Linked DNA regions of Homo sapiens: all the other regions are linked to region 2. Evidence: fine-mapped expression QTL. A gene starts in region 2. Each other region holds a variant in brackets. All regions are shown on one strand. Distances are from middle to middle. Region 1 overlaps TRIM2 (tripartite motif containing 2). Region 2 holds the start of TRIM2 (tripartite motif containing 2). Region 3 overlaps TRIM2 (tripartite motif containing 2). Region 4 overlaps TRIM2 (tripartite motif containing 2).

Evidence for each region. PIP is the estimated chance that this variant, and not a neighbour inherited with it, causes the effect. A credible set is the group of variants that fine-mapping cannot tell apart.
Region 1: its variant is the best candidate, but not a certain one, in a credible set for the expression of TRIM2 in prefrontal cortex (ROSMAP, PIP 0.76).
Region 3: its variant is the best candidate, but not a certain one, in a credible set for the expression of TRIM2 in esophagus mucosa (GTEx, PIP 0.72).
Region 4: its variant is the best candidate, but not a certain one, in a credible set for the expression of TRIM2 in blood mononuclear cells (TOPMed, PIP 0.89).

The regions. Positions count from the first base shown.
Region 1 is chr4:153,332,315-153,337,467 of GRCh38, reverse strand. TRIM2 (tripartite motif containing 2) reads right to left here. Exons shown (of 12, transcript NM_015271.5): 12 at 1-2,654. The coding sequence ends at 2,502. Among named protein-coding and RNA genes, the nearest start is that of MND1, 9.8 kb to the left of the region's middle. The variant A/TA (reference allele first, on the strand shown) is at 2,197.
Region 2 is chr4:153,202,041-153,207,193 of GRCh38, reverse strand. TRIM2 (tripartite motif containing 2) reads right to left here and starts at 2,751. Exons shown (of 12, transcript NM_015271.5): 1 at 2,634-2,751. The coding sequence starts at 2,663. RefSeq lists an enhancer at 295-1,200.
Region 3 is chr4:153,284,917-153,290,069 of GRCh38, reverse strand. The region is part of intron 3 of TRIM2 (tripartite motif containing 2); the gene reads right to left. Among named protein-coding and RNA genes, the nearest start is that of MND1, 57 kb to the left of the region's middle. The variant C/G (reference allele first, on the strand shown) is at 2,988.
Region 4 is chr4:153,231,881-153,237,033 of GRCh38, reverse strand. All of the region lies in intron 1 of TRIM2 (tripartite motif containing 2), which reads right to left. Among named protein-coding and RNA genes, the nearest start is that of TRIM2, 30 kb to the right of the region's middle. The variant C/G (reference allele first, on the strand shown) is at 1,976.

The DNA of each region.
Region 1 (5,153 bases), 130 kb before region 2:
AACACATAGTGGAGCAGGTCTGAATCAAACTATTCTTTCATTCCAGTTTGTGCCAATATTGACATGTAAAAAAAATTAGCTTTGTATTCAGTCTACTATTGAGATATCTAGCCTGATAGGATATGATATGATGGCTGGTTAGATTGTAAGTTAATTTCTAAGTTCACAAATATAATTGAAATGTTGTGCAAAAAAACTCTTTAAATCAACTAGTTTTAAGATCAACAGCCTGGGACAGAAAGAATCTAAATAAAAAGCCATTTTTACTTGTGAAAATAAACTAAAATTAATGTAACCAATTTGAAAAGTTTCTTTTAAACAATCTAGACAAGAGTCTAGCCTGTCTTTTGTGCAGAACGTTAGTACGTGGCAAAATGAAATTCCCACCCCAGAATGTCAGCTCTGAGGGGGCAGCGATTTTTTACCTGTTTTGTCCATCACTGTATTTCCAGTGCCTAAAAGAGTACTTGGTACCTAGTAGGTACTCAGTAAATATGAATGTTTAAATTCAAAGATGTATCTCACTGATGTTAGGAAACAGTGTCTTCATTTAACATTCTAAAAAGTTATTGAATTTTATAGCTTTATCACGGACAGGCTCAAGTATTTTTTAAAACTCTACCTAACTAAAAAAATATTAAACCTAAATGTAAATCTTCCTGGAAAAACCTTTTTTCAGAGGTTGATTTGGGCATAATAAATTTAACAGACAATTTGAAGTAGCTAGATTTCCCTTCTAAATTTTAAGAAGTCCTATATAGAGAATGACTGAATTATAAATTAATAAGCAATAAACATCACATTCATATAATTATACATAGGGGAAATGTTTTCTTATAGTACAGTTCTAAGGTGCTTTCAGTGAAGAAGACCCCAAAGTCACTATCAAAAATGTCAAACATGACATCCTATTTGGTAGAACTGAGTAGAAAATTAAACAGTGGAAATAGACCACAGCTTATTTTACAGTACCAATGACAGATGAACGATTGACTAAATTGTTCTTAACATTTCTCAAAATGCATTTATATTTAAATTAAATGTAACTCAAGTTCAACTTTTATTTTGACCTGTTGGGTTTTTTATGTGTGTGTGTGGTTTTTTTTTTGTTTTTTTTTTTGAAAGCACAGAAGGCCATTTTCTGACTAAAAGCCACCACCGTCATTCTTGGAAAATGGCAAAAATTAAATCTGCTTTAGGGCTTGCTCCACTAGGACGGCTTTAAACTGCTTAGTAAAGGAATGTGCTGAAGAGTGGCTGGACGAAGCTTCTGTCTTTCAGAGTGCTGCCTATTTCAATACACCAAAGATTCAGCTATATATATGTGTGTGTGTATATATATATATATATAATACATTCTATCTTACCCTAATCATGTATACATAGTCCCTTGACACCTCTACTATTCATTAAACAATGATAAATAACCATAACATGCCCTTACCTGTAATGCTTTCAAGATAACACAACTTTGGTAACACTTGCTTTCTAAGGGGGAATCATTAATCAATCACATGCCTTTGGTTGACACCATCAGTCCTCCAAAGGGCTACTTATGGCTCTCTGTCCTAGGATACTGGTGTCCTACTACATGTGCTGACATTTGCAGGAGGTAAAGCTTTCGCTTTCAGGAAGTCGAAGAGAAGAGACACGTGTGAAAACATGGTACATAAAACATGACTAACTTTCTTGATTACATTCCAGTGCAATGATCTGGAGTTAACGGGGCAGTTTGTTTCCCAAAAGGTAGCATTACTTTTGTAATATGCTTTTCAAGGCATTAGAAATTTCAGGTTTCCCTGAAGAAGTACTTTGTTTGCTGATACAAGGTGAGCCAAAGGGGTGGTGAAAAGAACACACAAAAAAGGATCTTTGTCTAACCCAGAAAGGTTGAGAAATTTGCACTGATACTTAAGTTCTGAACTCCAGAGGGCTGCTAATCAGAGCTGGGATCATTTTGCAAGACAGCCTTACTTTTTCCAAAGTAATTTATATTTAGTTGTTGATAACCAAAAAAATGTCACAAGAGTAATACCTACTGTAAAAGTGAGGTTAGAAGATTCCCTGGGTCTTGTGACCTAGGTTAAATGAAGTATATAACTACAATAGATTTTGTTTTTGTTTTGCTTTTGGAAGTTCTGTGCAAAAGCTACCATTCACAGGATTAACGAATACCTTTACATATGCTAGTTTTTT[A/TA]AGTGTCTGTTTGATTTGCAAAATTAGTTTAGCTACATAAATCCTGTCCCTTAAGCCATAGTTCACAGATGTAAAACTGCAGTTTTTATAGATTCAGTAGAAGAGTTTTTTTTAACCCTAAAGGTGAAATACAGAAATTGGATAAGTCATTTTTAAGGAAATTGTTACATTCAGAAATAACCTTGGAAAGTTCACCAATGATTCCTTCTGGCATAAAAACTCTAGTCATAATCTGGTCCCGCATTGAGAAATCCATTCCAGTTTATAGTGCAAGACCATGGAAGCGGGTATCCACCTGCCCACCATTACTGTAAGTATCGATAGACTTTGAAACAGTGATTTCCAGAGTCTGCAACCACAACATGACCATCTGAAGTTAGGGCCAGGCCTTGGGGGCCATAGAGTGGGTCAGCAGATGTGTTAATGTAGGACAAAAATGATCCACTCCCATCAAAAACCTGTAAACAAATAGGAAGTCAGAATGTTATAGGAGAAGTTATAGTAATATGCTGAACATGGGTTAGAAAACTCTTGATGCTAATGTTTTTCTGTTTCTTTCTTTCTTTTTGACAGGGTCTCACTCTGACACCCAGGCTGGTGTGCCGTGGTGTGAAGACAGCTTACTGTAACCTTTAATTCGTAGGCTCAAGCGATTCTCCTGATTCAGCCTCCCAAAGTGCTAAGATAATAGCCATGAGCCACCATGCCCAGTATATATGCTTTTATATTTAAAACATTAGCATAAGCCAGGTGCAGTGGTTTATATCTGTAATGCCAGTACTTTGGTAGGTGAAGGTGGGAGGATCCCTTGAGGCCAGGAGTTTAAGAACAGCCTGAGCAAAATAGCGAGACCCCGTCTCTTAAAAAAAAAAAGCAGAAAAAAAAAAAAGCAAAACAAAAAAGCACTTAAGTAATCATCTATCCATCTATGGATATGTCTTTGTTTATGTCACTATCATATCTATAATCCTACTCTCCACTTACCTTGCTTTCTCTCCTCTCCCCATCTATTTCCAGGTGGTGGAGAAGAATATGCCATTGGCTGCTAGCTTTCACTTGTATTCCTATAGTGGTCACAACAAATATTGGGTGGGAAGGGCCCTAGATGGTGCTTAAAAATGAATGAAGCTTATTGTTCATGTTAAATCTTCACTTATTCCACTTCCAGCCTCACATCCTTTTCCTCCCCCACACTTATAAGGGGAAAAATCAGCAACTAGATGATGGAAGAATGTTCCTGAGTCATAATAGCAATGAGACAGTAGAAATTATTTTTTCCTTTTTAGAAAAGAGTGGGTTGTAAGAAGTCAATGGTTCAACAGGTAAAGCCATCCCCTGGTATCCCAGGAGACTGATACCAAAATCTTCAGATTCTCAAGTCCTTTATATAAAATAGCCTAGTATTTGCACCTAACCTGTGCACATCCCCCCATATATTTTAAATCATCTCTAGATTACTTCTAATACCTAGAGCATGCTATATAATGTAAATAATATTATGTATTTTTACAATTCGTATTATTTTTAATCATTGTATTTAACAAATTATTTTTCCTGAAATTTTTGATCTGTATTTGGTTGAATTCACAAATGTGAGATTTGGGGGTACGGGGGGCTGATTATATGTTTGGATGTGAAATCACTTTCTTTTGGTCTATCGGTTTCTGCTTTGTTACTTCTGTTAAATTTTTATTTTGAAATAATTATAGATTCATAGGAAGTGGCAAAGATAGTAGAGAAAGGTCCTGTGTACTCTTCACTCAGTTTCCTCCAATGGTCACATCTTCTATAATTATGGTACCACACAAAACCCAATACATTGACTTTGGGTTGTGTGTGTACAGTTTTATGTCATTTTATCATGTGTGTAGATTTACCACTGCAACCAACGTACAGAATTATCCCATCAACATAAAGATCTCCCTCTTGCTACTTACTCCCCTTTCCTCACATCTCTAATCCTTGCCAACCACTAATCTGTTTTCCTTCTCTATAATTTTGTTATTTTTTTGAGAATGGTACACAAATAGAATCATATAGTATGTAACCTTCTGAAAATGGCTTTTTTTCACTCAGCATCATGCCCTTGAGATGCATCAGAGTTGTTGAGTGTATCATTAGTCTGTTCCGTTTTAATGCCAAGTCATATTCCATAGTATAGACATACCAGTTTGTTTAATCATGAACCTATTGAAAGACATCTGGGTTATTTTCAGTTTTGGGCTATTACAAATAAATCTTCTATGAACAACAATGTACAGGTTTTTGTGTGGACGTAAGTTTTCACTTCTCTGGGACAGACAGCCAGGAGTATAATTTATGGGTTGTATGGTAAGTATATGTTTAGTTTTTAAAGAAATACCAAACTATTTTCAAGGCTGACTGTGTAGTTTTGCATTTTTACCAGCAATGCATGAGAGATCTGGTTTCTCTACATGCTCTCCAGCATTTGGCATTATTAATATTTTTAATTTTAGCTATCCTTATAAGTGTGCAGTAATATCTCACCATGGTCTTAATTTGTACTTCCTTAATGTCTAGTGATATTGCACATCTTTTTATGTATACATCCTCTTCAGTAAAATTTCTCTTTATGCCTTTTGCTCGTTTTTCTTTTTTTTTTTTTGAGACGAAATTTCACTCTTGTCACCCAGGCTGGAGTGCAATGGTGTGATCATGGCTCACTGCAACCTCCGCTTTCTGGGTTCAAGTGATTCTCCTGCCTCAGCCTCCCAAGTAGCTGGGATTACAGGCACACACCACCACACCCAGCTAATTTTTGTATTTTTAGTAGAGACGCAGTTTTGCCATGTTGGCCAGGCTGGTCTCAAACTCCTGACCTCAGGTCATCCACCCGCCTTGGCCTCCCAAAGTGCTGGGATTACAGATGTGAGCCACAGCACCCAGCCGCCTTTTGTTCATTATTCTAATTGGATTGTTAAATTATTTTACTGCTG
Region 2 (5,153 bases):
CTTGCACAGAGTTACACAGTGAGTAAGTGACCTGAAGTGTGAATCATGAGGAAGGTGTGATATTGTGATTTATAATAAGAAATATATATTTGGTCTTGTCTCTGCTTCCTGGCACATAGTTCTTAAAATCCTTGCAATTGGCTGGGCATGGGGGCATGCACCTGTAATCCCAGCACTTTGGTAGGCTGAGGCGGGAGGATCTGGAGGATCGCTTGAGCCCAAGGGGTCAAGGCTGCAGTGAGCCATGATCATGCCACTGCACTCCAGCCTGGGTGACGGAGCAAGACCCTGTCTCAAATTTAAAAAAGAAAGAAAGAAAACCCCTTGGAATGTACAAAGTGATAAAGAGCCTTTTTGTATGCTAATGAGATGATTGACGACTGAGGGCTCCCAGATTGCCTCTGGAGGGGGCTGGTTGCCAGGGGAACCAAGCAAGTGATTAGAGAGTTGGAACTTTCAGCCCCTTTCTCCCTACTCCACCCATACACACCCCCTGACCCTGTTTCCAGGGAGCAAAGAGGGGCAGGAGGTTGACTCAATCACCGATGGCCAATGGTTTGATCAATCATGCCTTTGTAATGAGGCCTCCATAAAAACCCAAAGGAGCGGGTCTGGAGGGCTTCTGGATAGCTGAACACATGGAGACGCTGGGAGAGTGGCGCCCGGAGAGGACATGAAAGCTCCAAGACCCTCCCTAGCCATCTCTTCACCTGGCTGTATGTATTCATTCAACTGTATCCTTTGTAATACCCTTTATAATAAACTGGTAAATGGAATTAAGTGTCTCCCTGAGTTCCGTGAGCTATGCTAACAAAACAGTGACCCCAAGAAGTCAATCTCTGACTTACAGCACAAAGTTAGACAAAGTTACACAGCTTGTAATCTACCTGAGGAAGGATCGTGAGAACTTCTCATGGATAGCCAGCTAGTCAGAAGCACAAGTGACAACCTTCAGCCTGCAACTGGCCTCTGAGGTCGGGGCAGCCTGGTAGGACTGAGCCCTTAAACCTCAGGGTCTGCACTCACTGCAGTTAGTGTCAGAATTGAGTTAAACTGTGGGACACCTACTTAGGTGGGAAGGTGAGAATGCATTGACCTGACCAAATGGGATTTGTGAGGCCTGCGGTGGGCCTGGAGGGTGAATGATGCACACCTGTCCTTTCCCTTTGGAGCCTCCACCCCACCTGGGAGAGTCAAAAGTTCACTGGCAGAGTCAGAATTTCCATTCCTTGTCAGGACCTCCTCGTGGGGTGACTCATCCCTCTCCAGGGCTCTAGGACCGCACCAGGAGAACCTGGCCTCACTTAGAGACTGCCTGTTTTCATACAATGGGTTCAAGCATTCATGTTGCTTGGCGTCAAATTCATTTGAAAAACACCCTTTGTATTCTGACTTAATACCTCCAGGATCCGCAAACAGCATGGTGGCTTTAAACAAGGTGTACCTAGATAATAGATACAAGTTGAGGGAATTTGGAGAGGTGGGGAGACTTTCAAAGCATTAAATGTATTAAAGTCCCATGGTTCACCTCTAGCTTTATGTAAAAATTAAACCTCACCTTTTCATTTTATCAGGCTCCTGTCGATAACAAACACAAACCGCAAGTTCACTGACTCCACACCACGGGGCTCACCAGAAACTTATCTGATCAAAGCTGCCGTAGGTGATTCTTTTTTTCAGCAGGAGGAGGAGGACTTTCTAAAGCAACTCCCAGGACTCGAGATGTTGTAGCCCCCTCCCCACCTTACAGGTCGCAATGACAGCACAACCCTTTCCTTGCCCTTTGCGCACCCCGTGAGCTACGACAGGTGCCTCACTGAGCACCGAATGGGCCAGCCAAGAGATAAAGCAGGCACCAAAGACCGGTGCCTGAGTGGTTTTCCACCCTCACCCATTCACACCCCGGAAACCAGCAAGCACCCCGAGGTGTGGCTGGCTGAGCCCACATCAGGCTTCACCCCCGACTCACATGGCGTCCCCAGGCTCTGCTGACTTCTCACTTGGGTAGTCAAGGACAAACGCTCTATTCACCTGGGGCTATTTCTTCATTCCACAGTCGCACGGCAGAGGGACATAGTACCCTTTGAGCACTTTTATGGGGCAGTAAAACTTTACAGTCTCCTGTCTGCTCTAAACTGTTCCCACATTTCTGAATAGACCTATTTATAACATGCAAGACTACTACAGTTTGCCCTTTGAAAATACTAGCAGATATTAGGTCCTTTCAAATGGGGTCGACTGAGTTACATCGGCTAGCAGCTGGCTTACAGAAACCCCGGAGAGGCCCAGCTAAGCTCCTGACTGTGACTACCTATGTTAGGAAATAAAACAGCATTTGAGTCTCACAACATCACTGGAACTGGCCTTATGCTTTGCCACATTCATGTTGCTTTGGTGTCAAATCCAGCTGTGTCTCTCCCTCGATTTTTTGCTTCCTTACTCCCTTCCTGCCTGGATTAACAGAGCTCACTGTGAGCTTTGTCAGCAAATCCCAGTCTTTTCCTTCCCTCTTCTGCAGGGAAAAAATTAAAACCAGGAAAAAGTAGCAACCCAATCACAACTTGTTTCTCCCAGCCCCGGATTAACCAGCTGGCCCAGAAAAAGAATTATCCCACATTGAGAAGCGTCCTTACCTGCGTTCCATAACGGCCACTCCTGTGCATCGAAGACCAGAGCCAGCCTCCTCCAATCTGGGGACTTAGCTCCCCGCAGCCCGCAGACAACTGGGCCCATTATAGTCATCAAGCTGCCGAGTTAAAGGGTGGCCCTTACTAAAATATAAACAGCTAGTCAGCACAAGCCAAAGGGGCGGGGCTACAGTATCAGGGGACAATGAGAGCCAATGATCAGCCTCTTTGGGCTCTGTTTGCTTAAGATATTGTGTTTCATTCCGAAGTAGGGGAGACGGGAATGAGAAACACTGAAGAGTAAGGGCTGAGTTATCATCTTTACAGCCCCCAGTAGGAAAAGCGTCCAAGTTGAAAAGTTTAAATCACTGCCCACAGAAGACCAATTTCAGGAAAGTGTTTGTAGACTGCACACATAATAATATGTATTTTTAAAGCCACAGATATTTATGTTGCATTAGCTATCTGTTGTCTTCCGGGGTTAATAAATGTGGTATTCATGAGGTCAACGGGAGTTTTTCAACCAAAGAACAAAGGCCAAGAAAGTTAGTTTGATGACATGCTTATTTTATTGAATATACTATCTGATCAGGAGCACTCACCTCATCTACAGAGCAAACACTTGTTTGATTGGCACATCTTTATTTTATTTATTTATTTATTTATTTATTTATTGAGATGGAGTCTCGCTCTGTTGCCCAGGCCGGAGTGCAGTGGCACAATCTTGGCTCACTGCAACCGTAGCCTCCTGGGTTCAAGTGATTCTCCTGCCTCAGCCTCCTGAGTAGCTGGAATTACAGGAATGCACCACCACACCTGGTGAATTTTTGTATTTTTAGTAGAGACGGGGTTTCGCCATGTTGGCCAGGTGGGTCTTGAACTCCTGGCTTCAAGTGATCCGCCCGCCTTGGCCTCCCAAAGTGCTGGGATTACAGGAGTGTGCCACTGCGCCTGGTCTACTATTTTTTTTTTTTTTTTTGAGACAGAGTCTTGCTGTGTTGACCAGGCTGGAGTGCAGTAGTGTGATCTCAGCTCACTGCAAGATTGGTACATCTTTAGAACCCAGAGATATGGATTTATTGTATGCCCAAGTCAGCAAAATGGCTCACATTTGATGTGTTTATGTTCTTCTTCGTGTGTGTGTGTGTGTGTGTGTGTGTGTGTGTGTGTGTAGAGATGTGGGTCTCACTATATCACCCAAGGTGGAGTGCAGTGGCTATTCACAGGCACAATCATTGTGCACTGTAGCCTCAAACTCCTGGGCTCAGGTCATCCTCCTGCCTCAGCCTCCCTAGTAGCTGGGATTACAGGCTTGCACCTATAATCATGCCAGACCATGAGCATTTCATTTGATCAAACATATCAGAAGTTCAGTATATTTGGAAGAAGGCAGGAGAGCCGTGGCTTCTTTCTGTCTCCCAAACTTAACTAAATTCCACTTTTTTTTTTTTTTTTTTTTTTTTGAGATGGAGTCTCGCTCTGTCACCAGGCTTGAGTGCAGTGGCACAATCTTGGCTCACTGCAACCTCCACCTCCCAGGTTCAAGTGATTCTTGTGCCTCAGGCTCCTGAGTAGCTGGGACTACAGATGCGCACCACCACGACCAGCTAATTTTTGTATTTTTAGTAGAGACAGGGTTTCATCATGTTGGCCAGGCTGGTCTCAGTCTCTTGACCTCGTGATCTGCCCACCTCGGCCTCCCAAAGTGCTGGGATTACAGGTGTGAGCCACCGCGCCCGGCCTTAAATTCCCCTTTTAAAGCTATTACAGCAGCTTAACCTTCCAATGCCCTTTGATAATAACCAAGAACCAGAAAGTAAACTGTAGGGCTTTTTTTCCTTATATGATTTCTTTTTTTTTTTTTTTTTGAGACAGAGTCTCGCTCTGTCACCCAGGCTGGAGTGCAGTGGCGTGATCTCGGCTCACTGCAAGCTCCGCCTCTCGGGTTCAGGCCATTCTCCTGCCTCAGACTCCCGAGTAGCTGGGACTACAGGCGCATGCCGCCATGCCCGGCTAATTTTATTTATTTATTTATTTATTTTTTAGTAGAGTTGGGTTTCAGCCAGGATGGCTGGATCTCCTGACCTCGTGATCTGCCCGCCTTGGCCTCCCAAAGTGCTGGGATTACAGGCACGAGCCAACGCGGCTGGCCTCCTTATATCATTTCTAAATAATACACTGAAGTAAAAATAAAGTTAAGAGTTGTTTGGTTGATTGTGTGGCATTGCATAAATTATAGGCATACAAACTGTGAAAAGTACAGTCATTACATTTGAAATAGTTTCATCATTTATAAAGTGATATAGTAGTTATCAAAATGAACACAGTAGTTGTCAAAATGAATTATCAGAGAAAAATGTTGAAACGTATTTATTTTCCGCAAACTTTTTCTCAAGCCCTTCTGATTATAAAAATAATAATCCCCAAATGCCATCCTTTCTAATCTATATTAGTTTGAAAATGTTTATGATTCTGCCACTGGTGTTTAATTTGTATTAAAGTAAAATTCCTCCAGAACCTTTTCTA
Region 3 (5,153 bases), 83 kb before region 2:
CAGACATTTTATTTCTAGATTATATATAACTAGAATAGCATTTACTAATATTTCATCTTCATGGTCAGTGCTCAGGAGGTCTCTTTAAAGCAGGTTGTCACTGCCAGTCACATGTACCAGAGGACAGCCCAAAAACAGAATGTGAAAAGACTTCTTCCCTCAGGTTATTTCGGGTGTTGGGGCAAATATAAGTGTATGGACTGAGGGAATATGCCACATTAACAGTGCTTAGTCAATCCAATGGCACTCTTCCCAAACCAATCTAGCCTGGGACTGAGTTCCCACATCTTCACTGGAAGAAGGGAGCATGGCCTCATGTCTAGAATGGGTCTAGATCAATGGCAAATTTTACTTGGGAATCAGTGTGCACATTGCATTTAGAAGTTGCAAATACTATATCATATTTGTTGCATTTTGTGGTCTGAGTTGAAGTTCCCCAGCAGTATAAGAAACGAGATGACAAAGAATACTCATTGGAAGACAGAAAAGGATGCAAAATAATATAGAGTCGCGAAAAATGTAAAAAATCCTCAAGACCAGAGTTCATCATGTATGAAAAAAGATCAGCATCCATTACTATTATTATCCTTCTTTTTAATTCATATTTTTAAATGATTACAGGGAAGTGATGTTACTGAAAACAGCAGCATAAGAAAATCTATGTCAGGTCACTGGTTGGTAGCTAATCTACTGGAACAGACTTCATTAGCCACATATGACAAAACATACAAACTTTACAAAATTAGTTGCATTGGATAATAAAAGTGGGGAACGAAAAAAATATAAAATAATTAGTTTAGAAAAGTCACCAAACAACAACAGCAAAAAACTATAATAATCATCAACAAAAAACCCTAGGGAGAGGGGAGACTCTGATTTCCAGAGTTGCCACAATATAGTACTTTAAATGTTCAGTTTCCAATGGAAAAAAGTGAAGCACACAAAAAAGGACAAAGTTCACAAAGAGGAATAAAAGAAATTTATAGGCACTCTCCCTAAAGAAGCCCAGATTGGACTTACTTGACTTTAACTCTTTCATATATGCTCACAGAGCTAATGGAAACCATATATAAAAAACTATGAGAACAATGTCTCACTAAATGGAGAATATTAATAGAGAGATAAGAATTATTTTTTAAAAGCCAAATAGAAATATTGTAGGGTTAAAAAATATAACTGCAATGAAAAATTCACTAGAAAAGTTCCACAGAAAATTCAAGCAGGAAGAAGAAGGTTAACTTGAAGATGGGCCTATTGAGATTATACAGTCTGTGAGGCAGGAAAAAAAAAAAAGGAAGAAAAAGTAACAAAACCTAAGAGGCCCGTGGGACACCATCAAGTGTACCAAATATACCTAATGAGAGTCCCAGAGGAGAGGAAGAGAGAAAGGGAAAGAACCGATATTTGCAAAAGTAATGGCTGGAAACTTCCCAAATTTGATAAAAGACACAAATCTACACATCCAAAAAACTTAATAAACTCCAAACAGGAAACTCAAAGACATCCAAACCAGGAAACAGTATAACCAAACCATAAAAAGACAAAAACAAAGAGAGAATCTTGAAAGCAGCAAGACAGAGGTGACTCATCTTGTATAAGAAATATTCCATAAGCAGATTTTTTTTCTTTTTTCTAAGATGAGTCTCACTCTGTCACCCAGGCTGGAGTGCAGTGGCTCAATCTTGGCTCACTGCAACCTCTGGCTCCCAAGTTCAAGCGATTCTCCTGTCTCAGCCTCCTGAGTAGCTGGGATTACAGGTGCGCGCCACCATCCCTGGCTAATTTTTGTATTTTTAGTAGAGACAAGGTTTCACCATGTTGGCCAGGCTGGTCTCAAACTCCTGACCTCAGGTGATCCGCCTGCCTCAGCCTCCCAAATTATTGGGATTACAGGTGCGAGCCACCATGCCCGGCTGCAGATTTTTTAATAGCAGATATCTCATCAGAAACTATAGAGGCCAGAAATCAATGGGGTAATATATTCAAACTGCTGAAAAAAAAATAAACCTGACAACTAATAATTTTTTATCTGGCAAAACTATCCTTCAAACATGAAGGAAAAATTAACACATTACCAGAAATACAAAAACTGAGTGTCTGTTGCTAGTATACCTTCCCTACAAGTCATGCCAAAGGGATTCCTGCAAGCTGACCTGATTTGATACACTACAAAGTAACCTGGGTCCACATGAAAAAAACAAGGAAAGCAGGTAAAGGTAACTACACAGATAAATATAAAGGTCAGTATTAATGTATTTTAGTTTTCTAACTCCTACATGACATAAAATAAAACTGCATAAAACAGCATAATCTATAATTACAAACCTATGTAGCTGAGCATACAACATATAAATACAAGCTAAAAGAAGCAAGGATTTTACATACTATTGAAATTATGTTGGTATTAATTTGAATTAAATCATTATAAGCTAAAATGTTAATTATAACCCTCAGGGCAAACAATAAAGAAAAATAAAAATATGTATAGTAAAAGAAATGAGAAGGGAATCAAAATGGTTCACTAGAAAATATCTATTAAACATAAAAGAAGGCAGTAATGGAGGAATAGAGGAACAAAAAGATATGCCATACAGAAAAAGAATAGTAAATGGCAAAAGGAAAGAAAGCCTTTCTTTTCAGTAATTAAGTTAATTAATTTAAATGGATTAAACTCTCCAATCAAAGGGCTGATACTGGCAGATTGGATTGAAAACATAATCCAACTATATGCTCTCTATAAGAGACTAATTTTAGATTCAGAGACTCAAATAGGTTGAAAGTGACAGGATGGCCCAGATATGGTGGCTCATGCCTGTAATCCCAGTACTTTGGGAGACAGAGGCAGGAGGATTGCTTGAGTCCAGGAGGTCAAGACCAGCTTGAAAAACATAGTGAGAGACCCTGTCTATTAAAAAAATACAAAAATTAGCTGAGCATAGTGGCGTGTGCCTGTAGTCCTGGCCTTCAGGAGGCTGAGGCAGGAATAT[C/G]AATTGAACCCAAGATTATGAGGCTGCAGTGAGCTATGATCATGCCACTGTACTCCAGCCTGGGAAACAGAGCAAGACCATCTCTTAAAAAAAGAGAGAGAGAAAAAGGAAAAGAAAAAAAAGAAAGTGAAAGAATGAAAAAAATATTTCATGCAAACTGTAACCAAAAGGGAGCTAGAGTGGCTATTCTAATATCAGAAAAAATAGACTTAAGACAAAAGTTGGATAGTATATAATTGACAGAAAGGATATTATAAAATTGATAAAACTTTAGTTAGACTGACCAGAGAGAGAGAGAGAGTGAGATGGTGGGGGGGTGCGGGGTGGTGGGTGTGTGTGTGTGGCAGGGGTGGTGTGGGAGAAGAGAGAAAGAAGACTCAAATTACAAAAATCAGGAAGGAAAGTGGTGGGGAAATTACTACTGACATCATAGAAATAAAAAGGATTATAACAGAATACTGTGGATAGTTTTATGCTAACACATTGAATAACTTAGATGAAATGGACAAATTCCTAAAAACACACAAACTATCAAAACTGACATGAAGAAATACAAAGTCTGAATAGACCTGTAATATGTAAGGAGATTGAATCAATAATCAGGAAACTTCCAACACAGAAAAGCCCAGGACCAGATGGCTTCACTGGTGAATTCAACCAAATATTTTAAGAAGAACTAACACCAATCTTCCTTAAACTCTTAAAAAAAAATAGAAGAGATTGAGGGGTAATACTTCCTAACTCATTCTATTAGGCCAGTATTTCCCTGATACCAAAGCCAAAGATACCACAAGAAAATTACAGACCAATAACCCTTATAAATATGGATGAAAAAATTCTTAATAAAATGCTAGCAAACTGAATCCAGCTGTATATTAAAGAGATTATATATCATGAGCAGGTGGGATTTATCCCAGGAATGCAAGGGTGGCTTACCTAGACAAATTACTGTATGTAATACATCACATTAATAGAATGAAAGAAAAAACTCATTATCATCTGAATTAATGTGGGAAAAGCATTTAACAAAATCCAATATCTTTTCATGCCAAACTAGAAACAGAAGGGAACTTCCTCCTCCTAATAAAGAGCATCTACAAAAAACCCACAGCTAACATCATACTTAATCAAGAACAAGAGGATATTCACTCTTATCACTTCTAGTCAACGGTGTACTGAAGGTGCTGACCAGGGCATTTAGGCAAGAAAAAGAAATAAAATGCATCCAAATTGGAAAGGAAGAATTAAGAATTTCTCTATACAGAGATGACATGATCTTATATACAGAAAATCCTAAAGAATACACACACACACACACACACGCACACACATTCACACAATTAGAGCTAATAAATGAATTCAGCAAAGTTGCAGGATACAAGATTAACAAACAAAAATCAGTTGTATCTCTAAACACTAACAATGAATAATCCAAAAGTGAAATTAAGAAAACAATTCCCAGCTAGGCATGGTGGCTCATGCCTGTAATCCCAGGACTTTGGGAGGCTGAGGCAGGAGGATTGCTTGCCCCAAGACCAGGCTGGCCAAAATAGTGAGACCTATCTCTATTTTTTTAAAAAAATCCATTTACAATATTATCAAAAAGAATATAACATAGTTGGGAATAAATTGAACCAAGGAAGTGCAAGACTTGAATACTGAAAACTACTAAATAGCCAAAACAATCTTGAAAAAGAACAAAATTGGAGGACTCATAGTTACCAATTTCAAAACTGACTATAATGCTACAGTAATCAAAACAATGTAGTACTGGCATGAGAATAGGCATATAGATCAATGGAATAAGATGGAAAGTACAGAAAGAAGCCCATACATCCATGGTCAATTGATTCTTGACAAGGGTGTCAACACAGCTCAATGGGAAAAATTGCCTTTTCAACATATTATGCTGAGGTAACTAGAAATTCACATGTACAAGAATGAAATTTAACCCTTCCTTCAAACCACATACAAAAATTAACTCAAGATACATAAAAGACCTAAATGTAAGCTAAAACTATAAAAATCTTAGAAGGAAACAGGGGTGAATTTTCATGACCTTGAATCAGCAATGGATTCTAAGCTATGACACCAAAAGCACAAGCAACAAAAGAAAAAAATAGAGAAATTAGGCTTCATTAAATTAAAAGTATTTTTGAATCAAAG
Region 4 (5,153 bases), 30 kb before region 2:
ATACTGTAAGTTTACAAAGATGTTTAAGACATAATCCTCTGGCTGTGCGAGGTGGCTCATGCATATTACATGAGCACTTTGGGAGGCCCAGGCAGGAGGATTGCTTAAGCCTAGGAGTTTGAGACCAGGCCTAGGCAACATAGTGAGACCCCCATCTCTACCAAAAATTTAAAAATTAGCCAGGTATGGTGGTACACACCTATAGTCCCAGCTACTGAGGAGGCTGAGTTGGGAGGATCTCTTGAACCCAGGAGGTCGAGGCTGCAGTGAGCTGTGATTGTACCACTGCACTCCAGCCAAGGTGACAAGAGTGAGACCCTGTCTCAAGAGAAAAGAAAAGAAAGGAAAAAGAAAAGAAAAGAAAAGAAAAGAAAAAGACACAATCCTCAGACTCAAACAACTTGCCATAAAAAAACAAGTATGTAAAGAAACTGCTGTATAAAGGACAATCTTCTCCACAAGAAAAGTCCATAGTGGGTTGCTGTGGGATGCAAAGCAGAATTGAGGACAACTACTACTGTTTGTTTAAAAAAAGTAGATCACTAAAGGTTCTAGAATTGTCATGTGGTAGCATTTGAGAGGGCTTTAGTGGGTTTGTGGGGCTAAACAGAAAGAGCCAGCATGAATAGGCATACAAGGAAATGAGGTATGGGGCACAGTGAGGGAGTAAGGAGCCTAGTTTTCCATGGTATGAGGTACAAGGTGAGGATAAGTAGAAGAAAAGGCTAGAACATGCAATAGAAGCCATGTTGGGGATGGCCTTAACTGTATCCATGCATTCCCATGCTGCTATGAAGAAATACCCGACACTGGGTAATTTATAAAGAAAAAAAAGGTTTAATTGACTCACAGTTCTGCAGGACTGGGAAGGCCTCAGTAAACTTACAATCATGGCAGAAGGCACCTCTTCACAGGGTGGCAGGAGGGAGAATGAGTGCAAGCAGGAGAAATGCGAGATGCTTATAAAACCATCAGATCTCAAGAGAACTCTCTCACAATCATGAGTACAGCATGGGGGAAACTGCCCCCATGATTTGATCCCCACCGGATCCCTCCCACGACACATGTCACATGGAGCCCTCAGGAGACTTAGAATCTAGGGGGAAAGAAGGTAATCATAGTTTAGGTGGTCAAGAATTCTGATGGAGGTGAGCACAGGATGTTGGCAGGGTCCCGGAGGAGGTGACACTTGGGTTGAGCCTTGAGGGAGGAGTAGGGCTTGGTCAAAGGAAGAAGTGTGGAAAAGGTAATCTGATCAGAAGGAATAGCTGGTGCAAAACTGCAAAGCTCTTCAACAACCTGACACATTCAGGTCTGTAAGAAGCTCTAGAAAGAGGTGAATTGAGCCTTCTTTAAAAATGAAAAAGAATCACAGCCATTTATTAACTACTCTGTATGTGCTGGGTACTATTCTATACACACAAGAATTCATTTAATTCTCTTAACTTGGCGGGGCACCATGGCTCACACCTGTAATCCCAGCACTTTGGGAGGCTGAGGCAGGTGGATCACTTAAGTTGAGGAGTTCGAGACCAGCCTGGGCAACATGGTGAAACCTCATCTCTATGAAAAATACAAAAAATTAGGCAGGCATGGTTGTGCCTGCCTGTAGTCCCAGCTACTTGGGAGGCTGAGGCAGGAGAATTCCTTGAGCTCGGGAGGTCAAGGCTGTAGTGAGCCGTGATCATGCCACTGCACTCCAACCTGGGCAACAGAGCAAGACCTTGTCTCAAAAAAAAAAAAAATTATCTTAACTCTATGAAGCAGGCACAGCTTTTCCCATTTTACAGAGGAACAAACTGACTTTGAGTGCTTCAGAAATTTGCTTCTCAGAGTCACACAGCTGTCACCAATGATTAGTGACTTCAAGCCTACATCTTTCTGACTGGAAAACCAATTTGTATTAAGCCCTGAAGGATGGGAAAGAGTGAGTCATACAACAAAAAAGTGGAACAAGCATTCAAGGCAGAGGAAA[C/G]CTGAAGACATATGTGTGTTAGTGGAGGAAGACCAACTAGAAGCAGTTTGGAAGCACCACATATGAAGTACACAGCTGGGGGCAGCAGAGGGGTCTGTGTGCTCGAGGGTGGGACAGGGCACGGGGAAGGTTAAGAATTGGAGAGAGAAAGTGGCAATTAATTGAGTTCCACTTTGGACATGCTGAGTTGGAGATGCATGTAGAACAACTGCCTGGAGATGTCAAATAGCTGCTGAGTTATAGTTCTAGGCTCAGAAGAAAGGTCTGGGCATTGAATAAAAATTTGACCTATAGATCTAGGCAGGAAAACAAATCATCATCACAAGCATTGACTGTTAACCAGGCACAGCACCTAATGCTACCTATGCATTTTCTGTTTAACACTCTCAACAGCCATACAGAGTAGGTAACTTATGAGCCTCATTTTACAGACAATGACTCTAAGCCACAAGGACATTCAGTAGCCTGCCTAGGGTCATAAAGGATCTGCATACTTCTACATTCAGTTTCCAAACTTTTGTGACTGAGATCCGCAGCAGAAATGTATTTTATGTTGCAGTCCAGTAATAGATACATATATTTCACTGAAACAAAGGTTGCATGAGATCACATTTAGCCCGATGCCCTCTGCTATTTCCTATTCTATTTCATTTTTCAGTAAACTGGCTGCAACTCACTAACTTGATTCACAACCCGCTCATGAAGCCCACAGTTTGAGAATCGCTATCCAACACCTTCTTTCCTCCCACCCCTGAATCACAGTGTGACTGCAAGGATAAAGGGAGATGCAAGCAACATCATAGATGTCAAGGAGAAAACTGCACTTCTGAGTGGTTGTGAGTCTTGAGCATAAAATGATGAGAATTCAATCTCTTCTGCCAAATAATGCCCCAAGGACATGTCTGTGGAAGCTAGCTCTTCCGCAGTGACTCATTTACACCTGTCAGGAGTATTTATGGGGATTGAAGCCATTATTGCTGCCAAGCTTTCTCACTGTATGGTGCAGGAAAAGATGCAGATGCACTTAACTTTGAAGAATTTTAAAGTTGTTAGTTCTAAAATTGCTATGGTATTACATTAGAGCAGGATTTGGGCACATATCCCAAAGCAAAGCAGCCCGGTGCCTGTACTCCCCTTGCATGTAATTCCTGCAAACAGTGATTGCAACAGGAAATCATACCTCCGTGGCAGAAATTATGCAATGCAACATTTAACATCTCTCTCAGCAGGAAATGGTTTTGCTGGCAGGAGTTTTGGAATTAACCATAAAAAGATATCATAGACCCTGAATGTATGCATCCATCCTTCCTTCTACTTCATAGGAAGAGAGGAAATGTTCCTTCCCACCAAAATTGAAGCATTCTCAGTGGCCCACCTGCCTCCCTACCACCTCCACGCCTCACTCCTTCAACCCTTTCCTCTTTAACACCATCATCTCCTCCTTTCCCATGGGTTTCTTCCTTTCTGACTTCAAATACACATTGGTTTCCTCTAAAAAAACAAAAAAGCACCTCAGCAACAAAGAATTTTGGGGGTGATATAATTGGTCCTATCTCAACAGTAGTCATGGTTACAGAACTATATTCATTTGTCAAAATTCACAGAATTGAACATCAGAAAAGGTGAATTTGACTGTAAGTAAAGTAATCAATATCTCAAAAAGAAAACCCCACAACTTTCCAATAAAAACCCCCCACACCATTTTCTAAATCCTGCCACCCTGTAATTATCATCTGACTTCCTTCCTTCCTTTCTTTGGCACTTTCTTTTCCCCATGTCCTCATTTTAGCTAAACCAAAGTCTTCTCCCAGTCGTCCCTCTTCTCCTCCCACCTTCTACTGGAAACTCTTTTTCTTTGGCTTTGGAAGTAGAGAACTTTACCATTTCTCCTCTACTTTAAATGCTTCTTATCCTTATTCTTAGCAATCTTCTAACTCCGGGAATTTGCCAAAACATCAAGCCACTGCTCTTCTCCTACATTCACTCACTCAGAGGCCGCACCCACTCTTGTGATTAGATGACTGCTGGAATGCATTTGACTTCCAAATCTATGTCTAGAGAGGGGGCAGCTGGCTTAGGTTTCCAGTGGCCCAGGGGACAGCTCCACCCGGCTCTGTCACCACCTCCAATTCAGCACCTGCAGCTCTGAGTCTCCCCCTGCTGCCTTTGCTAGCCACTCTCACTGGAGTGGCTGACCTTATCACTGGAGCTTCTCTCCCAGGGCCAGAAACCCTGAAGACACCACTCAGCCCCTAAGTCAGGTACAAAGGAGAAAGGAGACATGGGAATGTTCTGTAAACTGTTATGTTCTAGACTTAACGACACATTACCATTGCTACTACTTAAATCTTTTCAACTCTTCCTTTGAAATGTGTCTTGATTTTATCTACTTTTCTCCACCCCCGCCCCAACCTATGGCCTCTAGTTCCCTCCCTTCCTTCCAGCATATTCTGCATGCTGGGGTCAGTCCACTCTCACTAAAACACCTCTTTGCCTCTCACTGTGCTGGTCACGACTCAATTTTTTTTATTTTTGAAAATTTATTATTTATTTATTGTTTTGAGATGCAGCCTCACTCTGTCACCAGGCTGGAGCGCAGTGGCATGATCTTGGCTCACTGCAACCTCTGCCTCCCAGGTTCAAACGATTCTTCTGCCTCAGCCTGCCAAGTAGCTGGGACTACAGGCGTGCGCCACCACGACCAGCTAATTTTTGTATTTTTAGTAGAGACGGGGTTTCACCATGTTGGCCAGGCTGGTCTCGATCCATCTGCCTGCCTCGGCCTCCCAAAGTGCTGGGATTACAGGCGTCAGCCACCTCGCCTGGCTACTCATGACTCTTTAAAGGTGGCTGTTAGAGTTGAATTGTGTCCCCCTCCCTCCAAAAAGATATATTGATGTCTCCCAGTACCTCAGATTGTGACTGTATTTGGAAATACTACAAGTTGAGTATCTTTTATCCTAATGCTTGGGGCCGGAAGTATTTTTGGATTTTGGTTTTTTTTCATATTTTGGAATATGTGCAGATACTGACTGGTTGAGCATCCGCAATCCAAAAGACTGAAATCCGAAATGCTCCAATGAGCATTTCCTTTGAGCATCATGTCAGCACCCAAAATGTTTTGGACTTGGAGCATTTCAGATTTTTGGATTTGGGATGCTCAACCTGTACAGTGTAG